Homo sapiens: one gene and its partner. The protein of the gene in region 2 interacts with the protein of the main gene of each other region in a pairwise test. Each region holds a gene or a part of one and is shown on either strand. Other genes may lie near its edges.

Region 1 (13,206 bases), on a different chromosome or scaffold from region 2:
TGAAGCCCTGAGTGGCAAGTCAGCAGGTGGTTTCCTGTAGGACACTGAGGTCTGCTTAAATAGACCACCCATATGCTTCCATAAAAATATCTTGTGTATTGGAGTCTACAAATAATATATTCTTGATGCACCTAAACCTCACTAATTCATAACCACCTGGGGTTAACATTTGCCTGAAGTATTTTCTAAAGAAAACAAAGACTAGTGATTCTAACAACCCAGATGTTGTTTGACTTCAGCTACCCAGGTGTTGACAAGTAGTAGTTTTAAAAGCAGTTGTATGGCATGGAAATATCACTAGACTAAGATACAACTGGTTTGGGTCACAGTTCTGAAATCATCAAATGGTAGATATGTGACTGGGATTTTCTATCAATTTATTGAAAACAGCATTAAGTGGCCTAGAAAGATGTGAGTAACTTTCCCAAGTTCACACAGCTAGTAAGTGACAGAAAAAGTACCGTCCAGATCTAGAGTTCTTAACCATTCCAAATATATTGCCCCATCCTTATCAGGTGCTTGTTTATTCCTATGGTTTCTAGAGAGCAAAAGTATTAATATTTCAGGGTACACTTTTTTGCAACTTTTTTTGGCAACTATCTTCAAATCCTGCCTGCAGAGAATTCCTAAAGATATTGTTGAGCACTCATTGAGATGGAAGACAAACCCTGTTCAACGAGAAATCTTACTGTCTGGAGATCCCCTCTAAGAAAGAAGAAGGAGACTGCAGGGGTCTTGTCTGAACATGAAAGACACTTATGAGTTGGTCTAGATTGTCAGTATTGGAGGATTTAGGGGCAGCAATCCTTGGGGCAGGGGGAATTTCCTTGAAATCCACATATGCCAGTCTAGCTCAGCTTTTGCTTGGTTTGTATGTTTATTTCTGGATGGCTTGTGTGTGTATGAAGCTGATGTAGAGAAGGGGCAGGAAAAGATTTTCTAACCACTCATCCCTGAAAGAGGGCACTCCTAGGACTCAGGAACTGAAAGTGATTATATTCTCCGTGTTGTCTCCCTAGGAAGGATCCAAATCATAGGTTAAAGGGAATTCTGGATGGAATATATACAGGATGATGAATCCATATCTAACCAATACCTATTCTGCAAGCCCCAACATGGCCAAAACTTCAATACTTGGTGGACATTGATGGCCCACAGAGTCTGCAAATGAACTCAGGCCTTTCCATCTTCCAAATGAGTTCACAAAGATAAGAAAGATATTTTGTCTGGTGTTCTAAAGGCTTAATAGTGACTTGCATTGGAGTAATTTGTACAGCATCCTCTGTAAGTCTTGTTTACCAGACACTCACTTCTACCCCTAAGTGTTTCTTAGTGGGCGTTAATTCTAAATTGGTGCCTAAAGGATGGGAGTACTCAAATCTCTCTTGGTCTTCAAAGGAATGGCTGTGGACACAGAGAGACTATACCTTTTCCCACACCATAGGCATGTGCCCTGCAAGTCTCACTCTTGTCACTTCTGGAAAACTGCACGTGGTCTCTGTGACACAGGGCTATTTCCCACTTCTGTTCTTCAACTCTGAGCAACCCTGGGCAGGTCAGAAGTTCTTTCAGGTCATTGTTCTTTCAAGATTCCAAAAAAATTACTTAACACTTCTGGAGCTCCAGAAACGATGATATTTGACGCTCTCTAAATGAGATAAGCAGATAAGGCTGGAGGCTTGAAGAGGTTCAGCTGGAGAAGACTCATAGGTCAGAGTAGGGAGACTGGACAGAAATGCATACTCTATACCAAGACAGCTCTCATGGAGCCCCAGTGGTGGAACAAGGAAGAGCCTGGAGAAATTTCAGCTTCACTTTCATTCTCCTGAGTGCTATCATCTTGCTTCTCCACTCTGACCATGCAGCCTTTCTTTGTATATTCCAAAAGTCAGAAAATTTGAGGGGAATTATTGGACAGGCCCAGAGTGGGGATCCTTGGACTCCAAGCCCAGTTCTCATTGACTGGCTGTGTGACCTTGGGCATATTAGTTAAGCCTCAGTTTCCTGTAGTGTTAAGTGGGACTATTAAAATGCTTCTTAGAGAAATGGTGGAAAGATTAGATCTAAGAACATGAAGAACCCAGCACAGTGCCTGACGCATATTTAGTATTAAAACAATTGGCAGCATTACATTGATCATCGTTGTCCAGATGCTACATGTTCCCCTTGGCAGATTTCTTTCTCTCTTTACTGGAGCCCCCCAGAAGAGCTGACATGTTTGTGGACCCAGAAATTGCACCAATCCAAAAAGTCAGAGTAAAAAAAACTTGGCAACTTAACGTGCTTGCTTCCATACCCTCTCCCGTCTCACAAGCATGTATGGGTTAACAGTCCAAGGGAGCTGAAGAATGAGAGAATTGCTGTTTAGCACACAGGCAAGATTTTGTTCCAAGGTCCCAGATTTTGAGTTGGATACTCTCCCGCCTGACAACCCCACCCCACCCCATTTTCAAGAACCCTTTCAGACCAGACTTTCCAATTACTCATTTTCTCGTCGCTAGAAGCCCTGCCCTTAGCATTCAGACTTTGGAATGCTACCGATGGGAAGATCACTGAGACTGGGCTGTATTGCCCTAGCAACCGCGGAGTGCGCCTGCGCAGTGGCATCCCCAGGCCGACAGCTCTAATTAGGCTTCTGCATCTCAACCGGCCAGACTTTGGATACAAAACGGCATATCTTCCTTCTCCCTGCCGCTCCCCCAGCGAAACGATTGTGTCGTTCTCTTCCTGAGGCTGATGAAAATGTGAGGAATGTCTTCCAACTCTCTCCCATCTAATAGGAGGTAGCAGATGGGAGTAGCCCCCGGTGATTAAATGGATGAAAAAGGCAGAAAGCTTCTGTGTGCCAGGAAATGAAGACATATAGATCCTACACTACCGGTAGGCAGCAGCCATCCCTCTGTAATAAGTGATTTTCCATATGACACTCATCCTTATACCAGGGCTCCGTCTCAGAAATTGTTACCTGCTGGCTCTCTAGGGAAGGCTTATGGGGAGCTATGAGACAGGTTAGAAGCTGTAAGGGGGATCAGAATGAAGACAGCCTAAATGCAAACACTCACCTTAACAGCTTGGGTGCTGAAATAAACTGCATTGGCAGAGGATCCCCTGCAGAGTTCCTCCAGGTAGATTTTTCAGTCTGACTGAAGGTGCAAGGCCATTGTTGGCTCTCAAGAGTCACTCTGAGGATATGGGCCCTTGTTACCTCTGCCACAGAGTTATTTCTCCCACTCCTCCTTTAAAGTCATTGTCTTTCTGAGCTATTTCAAATTCTTCACAGGTGCTTTACACGCTGCTTCTGTCTTCACTAGCAGTCCTTCCCTTCCTCTCCCCAACCTCAGATCTTACAATAGATGTCACTAAAGCACATCTTGTCCCCAGCCCTCCATACCACTTCATCCTTCCCACCACTATTCCTGACTACTTTCCCACTCATCCAGGCTTGACACCCCTGCACCTTCCCCAGACTATCTTAGATGCCATCACCTTCCCACTATCCTTCCCAGCACTTAAAATCGGGAGTTATTCTTGTGGACTCTCATAGAACTCTGAGCTTATGCCTATTATGCCACTTTCCATAGCATAATATAATTGCTTGTTTACTTCCATGAGCCCTCCCCCTTAAGCTCTGGAGCCCAGCTGGGTCTTCTTCACTCTTTTATTCCCAGCACACAGCACTGTTCTCAGAGCATGGCAGGTGCTTAATGCCTATAGAATAAATGAATGCACAAGCATAGGGTCTAATTCATTATGCTTTTATTGCAAATACAGGTAAATGACAGTTTTGTGTATATATATATTTGTGTATATATAGTTGTATATATGTATACGGCAGTAGACACAAAGGGAGAGCAATCACAGATCAGTGGTTTTGTGTTTGTTTTGTTGTGTGTGTGTCATTGTTATTTAACTCCTGTACCAGACCATTTTACTGATTATTTCAAAGATGTAAATATTATCAATACATTTTACAGAGCTGTCTGAACTTTTATGCTGAAACAAGACCGGGATGGCAAATGAAAAATTCCATTTATAAATATTGGTCATTAACCTAATCCAAGAGTATATTAAAAGGAAGGAAATACTACTAGAATTGGAACACAGACAGCAAGCACAATTTGTACTTCCCACACAAGCCCTACCTGGATTCTAATTTAGAGCCCCAATGCCTATTTTACCAAGGCATCTTTAACTTATGCCACTCAGCTGAAGTGATACATATTCCCTAGACTTCACGTGGGGTCAAGGAAAAACATGATAGTTGCCTCAGATTTGGCTCTGGCCTCCTCATCTTCCACAGCCTCCCTATATTGTTCTGGCCAGTTCTGTGGTCGCTTTCTGTAGAGCCTGGCCATGTACTCCAAGACTTTCATTTTGATGGTTTCATGGTGAGCTCGAGGACCCCATAGAAGCTCATATTCAACTGGATTAGAGTAGGACAGTGGCCTGCATTCCAGATAGCGCTGTCTCATAAGCTTACGGGTGATGGAATGCTTTCTCCCTACATCCACACTAAATCTTCGAAGCAAGTTCCAGACATTGGCCTCTTTGACACGGTTGCCCATCAGGAAGATCAAACCTAGGATTGGCATTACATATTCTTGAGTGGGTCTCCCCAGGCTCTCTAGCATCACTTGCTCTTCCTCTGATTCTGGTTGCTGGACAAGGAGGTAGATGTGCTCACTGGTATCAACCTCAATCAGAGACAACCCATAGAACATATCAAGAATTAGAGTAGCTCTATTGAGGATATTTGGGAACACATCCTCAAATTCTTTGCCAGTGTGAGCCAATAGCTCATCCTGATGTATAGGCAGCATCTCCTCAGTGACACTAATAGCCAACTGGACCAAATCATTTGCCTTATCATTCATAGTGTCCTCCGACCAGAACTCTAAGCCAGCAGTCAGGCTTCTTTCTTTGGTTTTGTCACCTTCCAGGGCCTTATTATATTCTTCTGGCCAGCTCCAGGGTTCTTCATCATGGGCATCTGACACAAACTTCAGGGCTTCCATCTTTGTGATTTCCCTGTGGGCTCTAGAGCCCCACAAGAACTCAAACTCAAGGGGATTAGTGCCATACACCGGCCAGTACTCCAAGAATCGCATGCACACAAAGTCAGTAGTGAGGAGGTTCCTTGTGTTCCCAAAGAGGTTGTTGATCCTCTGAGGCTTATCCCACATATCAACTTTTAGCAGCAAGTCCCAAATGGAGGCCTCTCTTGCTCGGTTCCCATTCAAGAGGATGTGGCCTAGGACTAGGGCCAGGAGACTTGCTTTTGGCATGTCCAGGGACTCCGCTATCCTATCGGTGATCTGGAAACCCCGTTTGCTGACTAAATTGTAGGTGTCAGCCTGAGGATCAATAACTCTCAGGTTCAACCCAAAGACCTGGTCCAGGTGAGCTGAGGCTCGTCTGAGGATCTCAGGGAACTGATCTGAGTACTCTCTGAGAAACTCCAGCATCTCGGACTGCTGGATAGACCCCTCCGTCTGGCTTTTCATTCTCATGAAATTCACCAAAGCAATCGACCTGTCTTCTAGAGGGTCATGGACCCTGAGCGCCCCCAAACGTCTGGACTGCTCGTCGATCAGGACCTCCAGGTCATTCGGGTCCTGAACGGCCTGGGAAGTGTTGACACACTGAGAGTTGATTGGCGCCTGAGGGCACTGGGGGGCATCAACGACTAGCATGGAGGTGGGGGACCCGGAGGCGTTAGTAGCTTGTATTTCACCTCTGCCGTCGCCGTAATCTGCAGTGATCTCTGCGCTACAGTGGCGTGCATTCTGGCTTACCAGAGACATGGTTCCAGGAGACAGGAGCGGGAACGGTGAGATCAGCGATCAGTCGGAGAGAGGACCGCAGCAGTGTTGGTGCCTCGGCACAAAGCTGAAGCCCGAGACCCTGGAGCTGGAAGGATCAAAAGTGAAATCTGGTGTGAAGAGCGATCTTTCTACACAAGTGCTGGCCAGCAACGACTGCAAGCCTCAGAGCGTTATTTTGCCGCAGCCTACGCAGGCGCAGTCAGTCTTTGCATTGTGGTGGCCACGCCCCACTCCTCGTCTTCCATGCTTTGTCTCTCATTCCTGCCCCCTCACCTCTGAAGGGCAGGCTAGGCTGGTTGAAGTGGTTGCTGCTGAATTCGAACTTGTTAGAGAAGAGAATTCGAGAAATGGAGTAACAGATATAGCAAAAGGGTCAAGGGATGAGGAGCCGTTCAGTGATGCTCCCTCCACTTGAAGTTTTTCTGTGGGGCTTAAAGCACCATGCTATCAGGCGGTAGAGGATTCAGAGAGGAGGAGGAGGAGCAGAAGGTGGAGGAAGGGAGGAGGAGGAGGAGGGCGCTAACGATTAGAATTATTTCACAGACTCGTTAAAGCTTCCATTCACTCAACAGATATTTACTGACCACATGCCACATGCCAGGCACAGTGCTGTACATCAGAATACAAACATAGTGATTTTTCCCTTTTTGTGTGGAGCTTACATTCTGGGGTATGTTCAAACAATGGTAATAATAATGAGAGATAACACTTATGGAGCACTGACTATGTGCAGGCACTCTTTCTGGTGCTTTCATTTTCCTCATACTTATTCATATAATGCTAGCTCTTAGATAGCTACTCTTAATGATCCTCATTTTACAGATGAGGAAACTGGGTCATGGAGGTAAATGTACCTGTCCAAAGTCAAGCAGCAATAAATGAAAGAGACCACTCAGGTCTGTCAGTCTCAAGCATATTACTTTCTCTCACACCATCTGATCTTTAACCTTATTTATTAAACATGACTCATAAAATAGATGAAAATAGGTGCTCTGATGGAGGGTGAATTAACATGTGATACAAACACAGAGGTAAGTATTGAATTACAGCTTAGTCTGGGGTATGTTAAATTGCGGGCAGTTTCCAATAAAGCCTCAAGAAGGAGTTGAGCTCTAAGTGATGAATAAATGGGAAGGGTTTATAGTAGTATTCTAACCTGAAGTAACAGCAACAGGAAAGGCCTAGAGGAGTGTAGGTACAAGTTTGTGTAACAGCCACTCACCACGGTGACTAGAGCCAGAGTGCACTAGAATGGGTGGTAGATGAGGATGAAGGTTGCTAGACAGTAAGGATTGGATTTTCTGTTCTTCACTTAGTATGTCAAAGCTTGTTGTGGCCCCACAGGGCAGGAATGGCAGCGTCAGAATAGAAGCTATTTATTCAGAGGGTTTATGTATGTGTATGCGTGCCAGCACACGTGTGTTTGGGGAGGCATAATCCAAACACTTTTGCCAGGAAGAGGTGAGTCAGCTGCTTTATTTTCTGAGAGCTCTACTAAAATAGTTGGGCTAAAACATAGGTGTAATCCTAGACTTCAATCATCAAGTTGAAGACTATGATGGTTGCATTTTTCAGTGCGGCATTGGAAAGGGAAAAGATTTATATAGGGTTGCCATCTGCAGTTACAATTGAAATTCTTCCTTAAATTCTTGATGGTAATGAATACTGTTACATTCCACAGAACATTACATTCAGTAATCTTATGCCCTGGAATTCCTTCAGAGGCTACTGTCTTCACATGTGGGGGTTACTCACCTCTGAAATTGTCTACATCCCAGGTGCTTTCTTCAGTACTGAAGTAGGTAACTCAGGGCCACGAATTTAGTCAAACTAGGCTAAAGAGATCAATGTTTACACAAATGAATGTGCATGTTCTAGACGGTAGAAATGTGTGGTTTGTATGCTGATCCTTTTTTCGGGGAGAGTGTTGTAGAAACCAGCACTGTCTTCCAAGCTGCTACAAAGGTATGATTAAGGCCAGACCTGATGGGGCCCTTCACCCTGGTCTTTAACCTTCCCCAGAAGGGCTCCTGTTCCTTGTCTTAGATAGGTGCTTCCCAGGGGGCAAATTGAGATAAGATCTTTAAGCTCTCTAGTTATAAACAAAAACAAACAATTTGGTACATTTTCCCCCTGAAATTCAGCTCACAGTTTGTCGCGAGTTGAACCTCCTACTACTCCCTCCATCTAATAAAGAAAAGCAACATTGAATGGCAGCATCTTATCTCTGAAATGACATCCTGATCCCATTCCACAGCATTGAAACCCTTAACAAGTTGGTCGCTACTTGGCTCTCTATCTTCATCTTTATTCCCCAGTACATCCTTCCATGATATCTTCTTCCTGGCCATATTGAGCTACACTTCTTGTCTCAGCTATTTCTATTCTACAAGTTTCTAAAAAGTTCTAGTTATTGTTAAATGAATAACAAAAAGCTGTCTCTGTGACTGTGACATATGGCATGTTTTCCGCTCTTTAAGTATAATGTAAAAAAGATGAGATCATGCTCTCCATTCTGAACTTTTTTTGATGCTTCCTGACCTCCTTTTTATACATTTCCAGAACAATTTTAATAAAGTGTTTTTTCACGTTAATATTGAAATATGGCATACACAGAGTAAACAAATCATGAATGTAGAGCTTGATAAATTATGATAAATTTAACATACCATCTGACCATGATGCCACTCAAGAAACAGACCATTACAGCATCTCAGAAGCTCCCATGACACTCCCTCCCAATCTCTTCCCACTCATTTGTCCTGAGAGAAAACCCCTGTTCAGACTTCTAGCATCACAGTTAGTTTTGCCTCCACCCAAACTTTGACTAATATTAGTAGAATTATACATCATATATTTATTTGTATTTATCTTTTTCCAACAAAATCCTACACTGTGTTATTTACCCATGTTGTATATAAAAGTAGTTTTTTCATTATCATTACTATATAGTTTACCATTGTAGAAATATGTACCACAACTTACCCTGTCAACTGTTGATGGGCATTTGCTTTGTTTCCCATTTGTGGCTATTGCAAGTAATGTTACTATGAACCTTTTTGCACTTTTCTTTTAGTTTATGTGTATATTTATGTTGGAAATAAGTCTATGAGTAAAATTACTAGGTCACAAGTATGTATATTTTTAGTTTTCATAGATATTACCAGAGAGTTTTTCAAAATTCTTGCATCAGTTTGTACTCCATGTAGTGCATAAAAATTTCTATTGCTCTGTATTCTTGTCCACACTTGGTATTATTGTTCTGTTTGATTGTAGGCATTCTGGTGGGTGCATTGTGGTATATCATTATAATTTTTTTTACTCATATTTAGCTTTTTAAAAAACACTTTTCATAAAAAGCTGGTCATTTATCTTATCAGGCTAATGGTTATTAAAGGCAGAATATTAAGAAGTATGGGAGTATGAGTAGCTAGAAGGTAGCCTCAAGAAGTGATAATTGATAGATAATTCAAATGGAAGGAGATGGAAACAATGTTCATAGCTGACATTGTGACTGAAATACTATGTTATCTGAGGGCATTCAGTGCAAGGACAGAAATGCCTAGATGTTCTAATTTTTCTCAAATTCTTTACTGTATAGTATAATCATGAATGACCTCGACTTACCAAGAAAAGTTAACTTTTGTTTAAGAGGGCAGATAAGTAAGTATTACAGAATTTTAAATCCAGAAAATCATAACTTTTTTTAAAAAAAAGATTGGTGCTCAAGTGAACATTATAATTACATAGAAAATTCACATACATAAAATATCATCCCTGGATGACATTGTATGGCTATAATATTGTGGTAGCTATACCCCAAATTTTTATATTTATTTCTTTATATCTAAAATTGTAATAAGCATTTAGATTCAATTCATTTTTAAGCAATAATATTTATTCAGTTTCAAATAACAAGACCTGATTATTATTAAGTTGGAGTATACAAGAACATGTCAAAATTTTTTTGAATATCCATGATTCCACCCACCCGAGATATTTGTTTTTAACATTTTAGTATTTGTTCTTCTAATTTTCTCTTTTTTCATACTTTTATTAAATACAACATTTCTATATAAAAGTGTGTAAATTATAAGTATGCAGGTCAATGAATTTTCATAAGTTGGACATATTTGTATGACAAGCAGCCAGTCAACAAACAGAATATTACCAGCAACCAGAGGTCCCCCTTACACCTCCTTCCACTCATTTGAAGACCCTCTGTCCCAAGAGTAAACATCATCTTAAGTTTTAACACCATAGATTCATTTTTGCCCATTTCTAAACTCTATATAATTGGAATTATACAGTATAGTTATTTTCGTGTCTAACATCTTTTAGTGAATATTATGTTTGTGAGATTCATGCATACTGTTGTTTATGATTATAAAACATTCGATTGTTTGCCTTATAGCTTTCTATTTTTTGAACATATATATTTTTACTCATTATAATGGCAATGGGCATTTGGGTAATTTCCAGTTTTTGGAATAAATAGTGCTGCTTTTAATATTCTAGTATATGTCATTTCATGAACTTTTGCATACACTCATATTGGGTACTTAGGAACACAATTTTTGGATCACAGATTATGCATACTTTCAGCTACTTTGAAGAATTCCCAGAAGGAGTCACACCAATTTGTACTCTCATAAGCAGAGAATGAGTGTTCTGGTTTCTCCATGTCTTAACCAATACTTGCTTTTTTTTTCCTTTTTCATGATAACTATTTTAATGAGTGGTGAAGCAGTATGGTATTATGATTTTAATTTACCTATCACTGGTAACAAATAACACTGACCTCATTTTTATGTGTTTATCAGCCACTTGGATATTCTCTTTTGTGAGATACTTGTTCAAGTGTTTTGCCCATTTTTTTCAACTGATCTGTCTTTCTTTTCTTGTTGACTTGTAAAGTTTTGTACTTTATAGATACAAGTCTTTTGTCAAATATATGTACTGCAAATGTTTTATCTCATATATTGGTTACATTTTCACAGTCTTAATGTTATCTTTCAATGAGCAGAAGTTCTTAGTCATTGTGTAGTCCACATTATCAATTAATTTCCTATGTGATTAGTGCTTTATGAGCTATGTTTAAAAAATCTTTGTGTATACCAAGGTGACAATGAGGTATTTCTGTGCCTTCTTCAAATACGATTTATTGTTTTACCTTTTATTTTGAGATGTAAAAATTATCTGGAATTTATTTTTGAGTATGATGTAAGGTAAGAGGTCGAATTTTCATTTTATTTCCACCACATGGTAAATGGTAAAATACCACACCAATTTTCAATTTATGAAGCACCATTATTGCAAAAAAGAAAACCCAGCTTTCATCATGGCATTGTAGTATCATGCTTATCGTAAATCAGGTGATCAAATATGTATGGGCTTTTTTATATCTTCTCAATGTTGTTCCATTTCTCAGGTTGTTTATCTTGCAATAATACCACACTGTCTTAATTGTTTTAATTTGATAGGTATTACTATATGGTAATGTTAGTTTTCTAGTTCTTATTAAATATTGCATTGACTATTCATGCCCCATTGCATTTTATTTAAATTTTAGAATTTATTATCAACATTCATACTTGAGAAGCCTTGGAATTTTGTCATTTCCCAATTTAAGAGAGTCAGTATTTTTAAAATATCAAGTCTTACAATCCCTTAATATGGTGTACCCCTTCATGTATTTTGATCTCTAATTTTTCTCAATATGCTTTTGAGTATAAATGCCCTCTAGATATTGACAACCAAGGATATACCTGTAGTTGAACAAATTGGGTTTATTGCTCATTAAAGGGACAACACACATTATGGAGAATTGTCTCAGTAAGTGGATGTGAAAGGGACTTATTATGAGATCTGAGCTTCATTTGTGTGATTTGGTGGAGGATGTAAAGGATGTGGGTGTTCACTCAGGATTGGATTCTGACAGGAACTAGGGGAATTCTATGTTTGGGTGTCTTAACAAATCTTATCTAGAAGGACAGAAGCTTAGAATAAGGCTAAGAATATAATTGGTAAAGGAGTGACACTCACTCATGTTAGCAAGGATATAGGTATGCTTGGTAATTTTTGTTGCAGAGACAATCTACATATTTTAATGTGCTCAGATCTGATTATACAGTAGTTATGTTTTTGTCTTGATCAGTTTTGGTCATAGATTGGTCTTATCTGAAGTTGGTGATGTGTGAAAATGTTCATGTTCAACAGGAGAGCACCAAGGCTTATCTGATAGTATACCAGGCTATGTGTAGGCTTGCATCATGAACTTTTGCTTCAGAACGACTGCTGGAATACATTAGGAAAACCAAGAGAACCCACAGTCCCTCTGAAGGAAGTGGTTTGCTCCTGCAGGACCCAGGAGACACCCCAAATACTGTGAGTGCCCAAACTGGAATTGGGAAAGGGAGATCATCCACCCCTGAACACACTCCCCCACTGGGAAACCTGAAGGTCTAGATTAGAGGAGAATATTTTGACCTTACCTGGAGCTTAGTCAATTTAGAGAGCGGACTGAAATACAGGGGTAGAGAAAGCAGCAGGGAAAGCCCTGTTGACTTACTGGGTTCCTTAGCAAGCCATTTCTGCTTTGCCTCACAGGGGTTCTTGAAGAGGACTGCCAGAAGCACTGGGGAAAGGCCACAAGGAAAAGGAAACCTCCAGCCGAGCCCTTTGGGTTGAGTGGAAGCTGGGTGAGGCCTGTGACTGCTAGCTTTCCCCCACTTCCCTGACAGCCTGTGTAACACAGTAGAGGCAGCCATAATCCTCCTAAGATCATAACTCCATTGACCTGGGAACCTCATCCCTATCCCCCACAGCAGCCACAGCAAGACATGCCCAAGGAAAGAGTCTGAGCTCAAACATGCCTAGCCCTGCCCCCACACAATGGTCTTTCCCTACGTACCCTGGTAACTGAAGACAAAGGGCATATACTCTTGGGAGTTCTAGGGCCCCACTCACCGCTTGTTTCTCCCCATAGTACCACAGCTGATGCTCTCAGGAAAGCACCCGACAGGCCAACTAGCACAAAAATAGTGAATTAAACCACCAAAGCTAAGAACCCTCACAGAGTCCATTTCACCCCCCTGCCACCTCCACCAGGACAGGTGCTGGTATCCATGGCTGAGAGACCCACAGATGGTACACATCACAGGACTCTGCAGATAACCCCCAGTACCAGCCCAGAGCCTAGTAGACTTGCTGGGTGGCTAGATCCAAAAGAGAGATAATAATCACCACAGCTTGGCTCTCAGGAAGCCACATCCATAGAAAAAGGAGGAGAGTACTACAAGGGAACACCCGGTGCGACAAAACAATCTGAACAGCAGCCTTCAGCCCTAGACCTTCCCTGTGACAGGTTCTACCCAAATGA
Region 2 (12,537 bases):
AATTTTTTAGGCACAAATGTGGTTAATTAACAGACTTAAAGGAATTGGTTTAAGGTTACAGTATAGAAATAACTCAAATAAGCAACTTAATTCAATAGAATTGTCCTAGAATAAAGTTGCACATCAAGATTTTATAATAGAAGTGTTTTGCAAGAGCAATGTTACAAAGTTTAAAACTTTTAATAGTAAATGGAAGAACACAAATTTTATTTATTTATAAGATGTAAACTTATTAAGGAGCAAAATCATTAAGACCTGGCTTTAACAATAATGAAGGAAAAGTGATGAAATATAGTACGAGGAGAATATACTAGAATACCTTTTATATTCTACACCAAAGCATTAGTAATGCATGAGTAACTGTATTGCTAAGATTCCTTGCAGCTATTCTAGATTTACATTAAGAATTTTATAATAAAATATAAAATTAAAGAACATTTTTAATGGGCTGTGATCAAAAAAATATCTTTTAAAAGCTATTCTATCTTTTCACATGTAGAAACTAACAAAAGAAAAATAAATTTCCTTAGCTAAAAAGTTAAAAGTATTGCTTTTCAATTTATACTCTAAATCAATTCAAGTGCTCTTCTTTAACTGGTATTTCCTTTAAAAAGCAAAAATTCTTACATAAAAGCAACGTATTAACTTCAAAAAAAAAGTTGCTAGTCAAGACTTTAGCTTGTTTTAATCCTGGTTTCACATTCACATAAAAGGAACTGAATGTTAAAGTGTCTTGGTAAACAGCTGAAATCTAATAAAAACAAACATTCTAAGGATCTAAAACACTTTTGATATTGAAGCACAGAATTTAGTTCCAACCTACTTTATTCTATTTTAGCACTCAAATTTTGAAGCCTGGAAGCCTTACTAAGTGTTAAACTAGAATTAAGTAGGAGTTCCAACAACAAAAAATATTAATGGAGTAAAATAAACTATGTGAAACATGCATGCTCTGGGGAATATCTAACATGCAGATTTAGCCTTTCAAGTTATTTCATTCTTTGCATTACATTTTACCTTAAAAGGTTCCCTAACCTGTATTAATTGCCTGAAGGCACACTGTTTAATATTTAAAGAAATTTTAGTAAGAACTGCCTGTAATACTCATTAAAAGCTTTATAATGACCATTTTTAAAAGATTATTTTAACTGACTTTAAGCAAGCCATCTGGCAAACAATATTTCTAATAAAAATCACCTACTGCGTTTGACAACAATATTAGCCCATACAAAATTTAAGACATAAACTGAAGCGAATTTTCAAACAGGAATATAAAAAGATTTAATAAGCCAGGACCTGTTTAAAAATCTTTTTCCAAACTTTTTTAAAATTGAATTTACAGTTAGGATTAAATAAATGGACCTTTTAGCCAACATTACTGCAAATACTAAGCCATAAACATTAAGACCATAACATTAAAATCCCGTCACATACAGTATAATATAATGCAAATACTTTTTAAAAGGTTAAAAAGTGACTTTTGGCACAAAGACCAGAACCAAAAACAGGAGGAAAAAAATTCTAATAAGTAGTACTTGTGTAAATTAGGTCCAGAGATTAATTATAAGAATTAAGCTTCTAGACATATTTACAAATGCTATTGTTTTTTAAACAAAATCTCACACATGAACATATACAGAAAAAGAAATACGTTCTTTTACTTAGTTAATAAGGATTCAAGAGGATAAAAATAAATTTAATGAATTCATTAGTCATAAAAATTTAAAGTATTTTAACATTTATAACATTGTATAAAGACTGAAAAATAAACATAACAAAATCTAAAAATAAGTTTAAAAATGAAAACCAGAAATTCAAACTGCAGTGGTATTCTAAACCAATCTGTTGTAATTAATTGCACTAATGAATACAGTAAATTACTAAGAATTATTTAATCATCATGTTATATGATCTAAACACTGAGGAAAGTATGTGCAGTAATGACTTGCAGGTGAAGAAAACAGGAAGTGGGAGAAAGAACTCACAAAAATCAATATTAACTCCAGATTACACACAATGTACAACAATGGTAGTTTCACATCTTGCTTCATGCCTCACTGAATCAAAGGGGAGCTTCATGTCAATAGCAGCTCAATGAGGCAGCAAAACAGTACTTTAAAGACTAAAAGAATATGCGGCTGGGCGCGGTGGCTCACACCAGTAACCCCAGCACTTTGGGAGGCCAAGGCGGGTGGATCACAAGGTCAGTAGTTCATGACCAGCCTGGCCAAGATGGTGAAACCCCATCTCTACCAAAAATACAAAAAAATTAGCTGGGCATGGTGGCAGGCACCTGTAATCCTAGCTACTCGGGAGGCTAAGGCAAAGAATTGCTTGAACCAGGGAGGCAGAGGTTGCAGTGAGCCAAGATCACGCCACTGCACTCCAGCTGGGGCACAGAGCAAGACTCCATCTCAAAAAAAAAAAGGGAAAAAGAATATGCAAGAATAATTGTTATGCAAAGCTGGCTAACCTCAAAATAAAATCTAAAAACTTTTTTTATTAGATGGAACATAAAATGTTAAAAGCATATTTTCTATCAAAGTTCTATATTTGGGATTAATTCAATTAATTATATAGAAGAGAAGCATTATCCAAAAAAGAGCCTGTAACTCTTTGTATAAAATGATAAGGGGAAGAATCTTTCAATAAAACAATTATAATTAGTAACTATATACTAATAATTAGTAACATCAATTTACTAATTCATTTTTAAAGTTTTTAATTTCTCACCAAACAGCTACAAAAATATAAAATACAACATGTCATTTCACTGTTAAAGCCATACCTGCCACTTAATAGTTTCAAGAAAGAACTAATGAAAGTTGCTAGGGAAGGCGTCATTATTCTATTTAATATGCTGGTGTCCTCATTTTTAGAGCCAAATTCACATTCCAGTCATAGAAAATAGAGTTTTATGACAGTGTTTTCTATCTAAGCCTCATGAATGCCCTTACCCTTATTTTTCCTTTAGTTTCTCACCTCCTTATAATTTAAGTAATCTTGCTTTCTCTTTTTTTACTCCTGGTTAACTGACTTAAATGCTTTTTTGGCAAAAGCACAGTAGAAGAACACATATATACATATTTTCCCCAATCATAGGATAATAGCATTATCAACTAGACAAGAAAGTTAAGTGTATTAACACTGCATACACACACACACACACAAACACAAAAGCCTCAGGGAAATAAATTATATGAACATAAAGGGAAAGAGAAGAATGCAAAAAGACTTTCCTGGAGAGGAAGATTTTCCGGTTTGTGAAGTCATCAATATCATACAGGGTTATAAGTATCAAATAATATAGTAATAAATCCATGAAACACTTCATAAACCTTAGTTATTATTACTGTCATTATCTAACAAGGTTGACTACCTAGGAAGCTAATTGCTGGAAAACAATAATTTGCAAAAACCCCGCTATTTCTTTCAAGCAAAAATACACTATTTTTTTATGCAAAAATATAAAATATATTGTCACAAAGTAAACAGTCAATATAAACTTCAGCATGGAGCCAAAATGAGCTCATTATTAGAAAAATAGTATTAATCAGGAGAAAAGTGCTTCAGAAACAATGTATTTTAGTCAGTTAGCTTAAAGCCATATAAACAATCTATCAAGAATATACTGGCTCATCTCAGTTATAATGTCACTCTCTCATCTGAAAATAAAATGGATATTAAACAAAAATCTTTTTAAAAATATAGAAGTAAAATATACTAGAACCTCATTTTAACATCGTTCTTAGAGTTACACAAAGTAAGTAGTGCCATGTCCACAAACAATACTCTTATCTAGGAAATCACTTTAAATCCTTCATAGTAGTTGGCATGATATAAATAAATAGGCATAAGGGTAAGACAAACTACAATATGAAAATGAAAGTCATTTTCATAATTCTTATCACTAAACTCACATTGGGATAGAGACTGAGTATCCCAAATGAATTTATATTATGCCAAATTCTAGAAAAACATAGTTTTCCCCAGTACATACTGTGTGGACTAAAGATGGCCATCACACTCCCATTAGGAGGTGAGATCTATATCCATTCCCTTTGTAACTGAGTGGGCTCTTTTACTAATATGGTGGAATCAGTGCTGTGCCAGTTTCCTAGCCCAAGCCCTAAAATGTTAGCATCTTCTACCTCCTTATTCTTGGGATATTCTCTCTTGTAACCCTGAGCCAACATGTGAGAAGTACAATCACACTGTTACAGAAATTGATGCAGTTTCTGATGTAGTCAGCCCCTTCACTAGATTCACGGTAAGGACTCCCCTCTACTAGACCCACTGCACTCAACTCTATGTGGGAGGGAGCACGTGGGTGAGTCAGCGCAGATCTAGCCAGCTGCTCCAAGCACCAATACAGGAACAAGTTTTGCATGGGGCCCGCAGTCAGACCAGACACAAGCAAGCAAGTGCAGGACCCAGCCATCCGCCCCAGGCACGGACACAGAAGCAAACTCTACGTGGGGCCCACAGCCAGACCAGGCATGTTGCCTCAAGGGGAACATGGCAGTGCCCAGGTGAGGGGGCCCACAACCCCAAAGCCCCAGGGGAAGTGTTACAGTGCTCCTTTAGTTCTGCCATCAGACAACAGTGTGTTGGCAGCTCAGTTGGCTTCTGGCCTTGTCACCTAGGGCAGCTGCTCTCCACCAGGAAGGGCAAAGTGCCAGTGTGACAGCCTTTCTGGGTACCCACACTTGGTGGGTCCCAAGCTCTTGTCTGGCATCCAAGAAGAATGAGGTCACAGGGATGGTTAAAAGATGGCGAAGGTGATAATTTTATTGAGCGATGAAAACAGCTCTTAGCAGAGAGGGGAGCTGGAGAGGGGACAGGAAGAGCAAGTCGTCTTCCCCGAAGTCAGGTTGTCTCTTCCTCTACTTACTGAGTCTGGGGTCTTTATAGGCACAGGATGAGGAGAATGTGCTGAATTAGCTTATGAGTAAGCAAAAAAGGTTGAAGTGAAGACACTACTCAAAGATGGGCATGACAGTGTAGAAAACCAATTAGGAAAGGGTAGATATACATAAAATAGGTGAAGAGTGGGGATCAATCAGAGGAAAGCACACCAAACAGGAGGACAAGTTCTCAATCTGGTCCAAGGATTTAACTTGTAGCTTGGCTTTCAGGTTTTAAACTGTCTTCAACATGGAGATGGGGTTTCTCTGGGTACCCGTCCCTATCTGCCTAGGCATTTGGCTGCCTCCTGTCGCTATCAAAACCACATGGAGAGGTGTCCTGAGAATACATTAGGGAAGCAGAAAAGCCCAAAAGAACCACTTAAATTCCTAACCCACAGAATTGTGAGCATAAAAACATATTGTTCAGTGTGGATGGAGGGCAACCTCTTATTCAGCAATAAATACACTGATATCAATACATAACCAACAAAACTAAAGGTGAACCAGATTACAAACACTGTGGAAAAGCCCTTTAAATGCCATCATCCAGCCTACTAGGAAAGGTAAATCCTGAAGAATGTTTTTTACAATCACAATTAGCATTAATACATACCAGCTCATCTAAAAAAGCCTGCTTATTCTTCCTTTTTAGAATCTGCTGCAGTTGTTCTTCTTTTTGTATAAATAATCTTCTTTGTTCATTTTCCTGTCGTTCCACTTCTAAAGCTTCTTCCAGTTCTTCCTGTTCTCGAGTCTAAAACAAAAATTTATATATGGCGTGGAATAAATTTAGGAGCCAAGAGCAATCATATACCACACTCTAATACTTTCTTTATTGGAAGCATAAAACACACTAGTCACTTATTATTTAATAATGTAGCAATTCCATATTGAAGAAAATAGAATTTACTTTATTTCATGTAGACACGTTACTATTAAATAAAACAACTATTCTGTTATACCATACTAGTGGAATTTTGCTATACTAAGGCCACTGGGAACATATTAAGGGAATTTGAGGGATGAGTTTAGAAAGATGACTAGAGGCAGTAAGGTATACATAAAGATCAATTGGGTTCAAGACTGACAATAGGAGGACTAGTTAGAAGTATATTCAAATAACCCAGATAAGAAATAAGAGCCCTACGCAGCGGCTCACACCTGTAATCCCAGCACTTTGGGAGGCCACGGCGGGTGGATCACAAGGTCAGGAGTTCGAGACCAGCTTGGCCAACATGGTGAAACCCTGTCTCTACTAAAGATACAAAAAATTAGTCAGGCATGGTGGCACATGCCTGTAATCCCAGCTACTCGGGAGGCTGAGGCAGGAGAATCGCTTGAACCCAGGAAATGAAGGTTGCAGTGAGCCAAGTTCACACCATTACACTCCAGCCTGGGCAACAGGGCGAGGTTCCATCTCAAAAAAAAAAAAAAAAAAAAAAGAAAGAATAGAAATAAGAGCCCTAAATAAAGTAATAATCTAATTAGAGTGGGGATGAGGCTTAAAAATGATAAGGAGTGATCATCAACAGAATATAAAGACTGACCAAATATGGATTGAACACTTGGATGAATGCTGGCACCATTCACTGAAACAAAGAGCATAATAAGAGACAAAATAGACTTTAATTAAAAAACTGTCAAAAGAGACAAAGAACATTATATAATGATAAAAGGATCAACATATAGAAAGATATAACAATTATAAACAACTAAATATGTAAAGCAAACATTGACAACTGAAGGGAGAGATAGACAGCAATATAGTAACAGTAGGAGACTTAACTCACATTCAGTAATGGATGGAACTTTCAGAAAGAAGATCAGTAAGGAAATAGGAGTCTTAAACAACTTTATAATTCTGTATATTTCTGTTATAACAACTAACAGAAATATACAGAACATTCTACTCAACAGCAGCGGAATACACGATCTTCCCAAGCACACACAGAACTTTCTACAGGATAGGTCACAAGTTAGGTCACAAAACAAGTCTTAACAAATTTAAGAAGACTGAAATCATACCAAGTATCTTTCCTGACCACAATGGAATAAAACCAGGAATCAATAGCAGAAGGAAAACTGGAAAATTCACAAATATGCACATATGTGAAAATTAAACAATACACTCAAATAATCATTGGGTCAAAGAAGAAATCAAAAAGGAAATTAGAAAATACCTCAGGACAAACAAAAACAAAAACATAGCATACCAAAACTTGAGGGATACAAAAAAGCAGTACTAAGAAGGAAGTTTCTTGTGATAAACACCTACTTTAAAAGAGAAGAAAGATCTCAAATAACAACCTGGCTTTACATCTCAAGGAGCTAGAAATTTAATAACAAACTGAGCTCAAAGTAAGCAGAACAAAGGATTAAAATAAATAACAAACATTAGAGCAAAAATAAATGAAATAGAAAACAGAAAAAGAACAGAAAAAATTAACAAAATTAAGTTTTTTCAAAATATAAAATTGACAAACTCTTTGCAAGACTATGAAAGAGAGAGAAGACTCAAAATCAGAAATGAAAGAGGAGACATTACAACTGATGCCACAGAAATAAAAGGATCATAAGAGACTACTATGAACAATTATACACCAACACTTAATTATATTACGCTTCAGTTAATCTAGAAGAAATGGACAAATTCCTAGAAACATACAACCTACCAAGACCAAATTATGAAGAAACAGGAAATCTGAAAAGACCTAGAACTAGTATGGACACTGAATCAGTAATCACACCTCCTAACAGAGAAAAAGCGGCAGTGGTGAATTCTGCCAAACATTTAAAGAAGAATTAATATCAATCCTTCTCAAACCTTTCTAAAAAATTGAAGAGGGAGACACTTCCAAACTCATTTTATGAAGCCAGCATTATTACCCTGATACTAAAACCAGACAAAGGTACCACAAGGAAAGAAAACTGTGAGCCAATATCCCTGATGAACAAAAATGCAAAAATTCTCAACAAAATACTTATAAACTGAATCCAACTGCACATTAAAAGGATCATACAACATAACCAAGCAGGAATTATCCTTGGGATGGAAAGATGGTTTGACATACAAAATCAATTAATATACATTAACAAAATAAAGAATTAAAATCACATAATCATATCAATACATGCAGGAAAAGGCTTTGATAAAATGTAACGCCCTTTCATGATAAAAGTGGTGGCTCACATCTGTAATACCAACACCTGGGGTTAATGAAACATTTTACCTACGCATACCTATTTTGCATGTATCTTCTGATGTTCCCAGAGAAGGTTACTAGGCAAAGAGAGTAACATTAATGACATACTGATGCTCTCAGAAATAAGATACTTTTAAAAGAAAGCTAGGCTAGCTATGAATGGAATGAAAATGTAGTATCAATTCATTGAGAGTTTTACAGCAGGAAAGAAATGCTGATATAAAACACTATAAGACTACAAGGAGGAAGTCTCTTCTAAATACAAAATGAAAATATAAGCTATGTGATCCAAATATACTTGTATCCTTTTCACTGATTATTACAAAATCCTGATAAAGTATCTCAAACGTAATTACCTCTGCTTTCCCCTACAACTAGAAAGCCAAACTGTACTATAGAAATGATAGCTAAAGTGTATAAATTAGACAATTGCTCCTTTGCATGCATACAATTTTTTCTTTATAGAATACATTCTAATACATATAATAATAATGACTCCTGAGATATTTTCAAAACAAACTTCAACATGAGATCAACTAAAACAAACCAAAATCATATTTATATCTAGCAATGTTACTCTTTCGGTAAAACAAAAAAGGTAACTAATTGAGAAACCAAAGTTAACCTTAGTTTACAAATGTGTTCCTCTGATCTAATCATGAATTCATTTTAGTTTCTAATAAATAGTGTTTTTGTTTTATCTCCCTCTTGGTAGCTCCATCACCGTCTGTCTGGGTTTTCTCTCTCCTTTAGAGAAATTAATGTCCAAGGATAAAAATGAGCCTCCAGTGTTTTGTGACCACTGTCCAAATGCTCACTTACCAGAAGATTATACAGGCAGATAAAACTAGCGTTAACAATCACCTATCTTACGGATCCACTTCCTTAAGAAAGCACAGTCTAACATAATGCTGTCAAAGTGGTTTTTGCTACAGTAATGTGTGCCTGCCTACCTACATACCTATACAGCATATATTCATATTTCTGGTCTAAATTTCAGCTAAATTTTCTATAAATGTAACTGGTTTAAAGGAAGATGGCTTTTTAAAGTATCATGTGGAAACATTTGTTTCTAAGACAAAATAAGAAGAAAATACTTAGCAACCGACCAGCTTTAATTTATTTTTCTGAATAACATCTTTGTTTTCCTTTTGGTATATCTCCATTTTCTTTTTGGTGTTGTCCAAATCCACATTGTTGGTCAAGTTGAAAACTGCATTAGAAAGGAAACGATGACATGAAAAATATTTTTAATATAAATCTTGAGTAGACAATAAAAAACAAATACCACAGTGACTCATTTGTTAGGTTGTCATTCTTTATAGCTCTATTTGTGACCTTTTAATCAGCTACCTATTTTAGAGACTAGCTCTAGTTACGGCAAACATGTTTTCCAAGCCAAACACAAGGACAGACTGTCTGACTCGCACAAAATACCTAAATGTCAGGATCACTCCAGAAAACCTAAGATATGTGCTTAGATCTGATTTTTATAGTCCCCTCTCTAGCTTTAAAAGCATAAAAAAATTGTTTAAATTTTTTTAATATAAAGAGTAAGTCTGGAATCTACTACAAGAATCAGAATTTTAAAAAAAGAGTTAAAAAATCATATATTTTTATAATTTATATCAAACAAAAAACAGGTTTTATCCCCATTCCAATTGTCTCCAACATGAGTAGACACAGGCTTGAATTACTTCCCTTGTAGTCTAGCTCTAGAAACGTATGAAATAAAGGAGTTGGAACTTAAGAAGAAAAATAAAGGATAAACTGGCACCAAAACTTAAAGTAAAAGAATTTCTTAAGAGAACCACTGAGACATGTTTAGATACTACTAAATTTTCTGTAAATTACAACTCTCTTTTTATAATTCCAACTCAAAATAATTTGAATTATGAATGCCATATTCCCTTCTAATTTTCCATATGTAAATCAAAGTTACTATAATACTCTGAACAATTAAAAAAAGACCTTCTTGCTATATATAAACTCATATGGAGGAATCCATATCAGTAAGACTCTCCTGTTCCATAATTCAATTCAAGCCTCCTTTAGCTTCCCTTGTAATCTTTCTACATCCATTATTAGCCCTTCCACCCCTTCTCCAATTACTTACCACTGCTTCCTGCTTCTTGCCCTACAAACAAGACGGATCTACCCTAAATAACTCTGCTCTATCCCTTGGGTTTCTACAGATTGCTTCCCCATCTCACTCTTTCCTTTAATAGCTTATAAGAGTTGAAAAGTAACACCGGAGGACCAACACAGAGTTGCTTGTTTTGTTGAGTAAAGCCATCAAACAGACTCAAATGACCAGTTTGATCTATAATTTCATTTTTTTCTTCTCAAAAGGCCAACTTATTTCAGAACATCAATTTATCATAATCACTGTTGAAAATCCAGGCTCATTTAGGTATAAAGGCAAAAGTCTATTCAGTTTTATCATACGCAATTTTAAATCTGGAAGAATTGAGAGAAAATGAGAAGCAATTATCCTCTAGCAACTTCTCCAGTTTTTTAACATAAAGTGGGAAAGAAAATAAGTCAGGGAATCTGGCTAGGATGCAATGTGGGACAATCTTCATAAATCACACTCTAGTCCTGACACAAAACAGTCAGAGGGAGGCTCCAGACAAGCAGCACTCTCAAAAAGTTACCTCTGATCCTTAGTTAAAATGGTGATTCCACTATCTTTACCAACCACTCAAAATCTACCTCTTGTATTTAATAGGCCATCCTCTAAGCAACCAAATCCAATGATCTTTCACAACTCTCACCATCCTCAACATCTACCAGATCCAACCTCAGCCTCCCAAGTAGCTTGGATTACAGACATGCACCACCATGCCTGGCTAATTTTTGTATATTTCAGTAGAGACAGGGCTTCACCATGTTGGCCAGGCTGGTCTTGAACTCCTGGCCTCAAGTGATCCACCCGCGTTGGCCTCCCAAAGTGCTGGGATTACTGGCGTGAGCCACCATGCCCAGCCATTAACCTAGGCTATCTGATTCCAAACCTGAACTTTTATCTACAATGCCTACAAAACTAGTTGTGTCATTTCTCTCAATGCCTGAAAACCACTGCTACCTAGCAGTCCTCTGCATTTGTATGCCCCTACACTTTCCCATTTCCATACCTGTGATTAAACTGTTCCCTACCCATAGGGCTCATCTCAGTACCAACCTCAACCCAGAACAACAGTGAATATCCACATATGACTCACCCTTCTATACCCATTTTAATGACCAGCTCCTCCTTATGAGACACTTTGCAGTTACAATCTCTCCATCCCTGAATGCTTACAATACATTGTCTAATATCGCTCTGCTGGCATTTACCCACTTCCTACCCTGTATAATTATTTTCAATGTGCACATCTTGTCTGACCTATTAGAATGTTCCTTGAGGGCAGTTTCTAGGTCTGATTCATCTTTATTATCACTTCCACTACTTCTAAGGCACTCCTATTAGAATGGCAAAACTCCAATGACAACATAAAATGCTGGTGCAGATCTGGAGCAACAGGGACTCTCATTCCTTGCTGGTGGGAATGTGAAATGGTATAGCCACTTTGGAAGACAGCTTCCTAGTTTCTAACAAAACTAAACATACTCTATCATATAATCTGGCAATCAAGCACCTAGGTATTTATCCAAATGAATTGAAAACACATGTTCACACAAAAACCCACACATGAATGGTAACAGCAGCTTTATTAATCATTGCCAAAACTTGGAAGCAACCAAGACATCCTTCAGCAGATTTAAAAAAATGTAATATTATTCAGCACTAAAAAGAAATCAGCTATAAAGCCAAGACACAGAGGAGCTTTAAATGCATATTGCTAAGTGAAAGAAGCCAATCTGAAAAGGCTACATACTGTATGATTCCAACTATATAACATTCTGGAAAAGTCAAAACTATAAAAACTAAAAAGAACAGTGTTTGTCAGGGGTTGGGGTAGGGAGGAATAAACACACAGAAAAACACAAAGGATTTTTAGGACAGTTAAAATGACTCTGTATGATATAATGGTAGATACACATTATTATACGTTTGTCAAAACTCATAGGGTATACAGCACCAAAAATGAATCCTAGTGTAAACTACAGACTTTGTGTGATAATGATATCTCAATGTAGGTTCATTGATTGTAACAATGTACCACTCTGGTGCAGGATGTTAATAATGGGGGAGGCTGTGCACTGTGCACATGTAGAGGGAAGAGATATATAGGAATTCTCTATACTTTTTGCTCAATTTTGCTGTGAATCTGAAACTTCACTAAAAAAAAGTCTACTTTTAAAAAAAAAGAAAAAAGAAAAAACTTCTCATCTGGTAAGGGCTCAAGAAATACTTGTTGAATTATCATGAGAGAAAAAATAAACTAATACCCAACATTTATAATTACTTTTATAATTAT

What was found.
Region 1: the proteins of MNAT1 (region 2) and MAGEE2 interact in a two-hybrid assay, tested with the Homo sapiens proteins (one study listed by BioGRID).

Annotation. Positions count from the first base shown.
Region 1 is NC_000023.11:75,779,248-75,792,453, forward strand, and holds MAGEE2 (melanoma-associated antigen E2), read right to left. Parts: upstream 6,008-13,206; 5' UTR 5,805-6,007; coding exon 4,233-5,804; 3' UTR 3,740-4,232; downstream 1-3,739.
Region 2 is NC_000014.9:60,805,114-60,817,650, reverse strand, and holds part of MNAT1 (CDK-activating kinase assembly factor MAT1), read right to left. Parts: intron 9,327-12,537; coding exon 9,223-9,326; intron 5,665-9,222; coding exon 5,524-5,664; intron 1-5,523.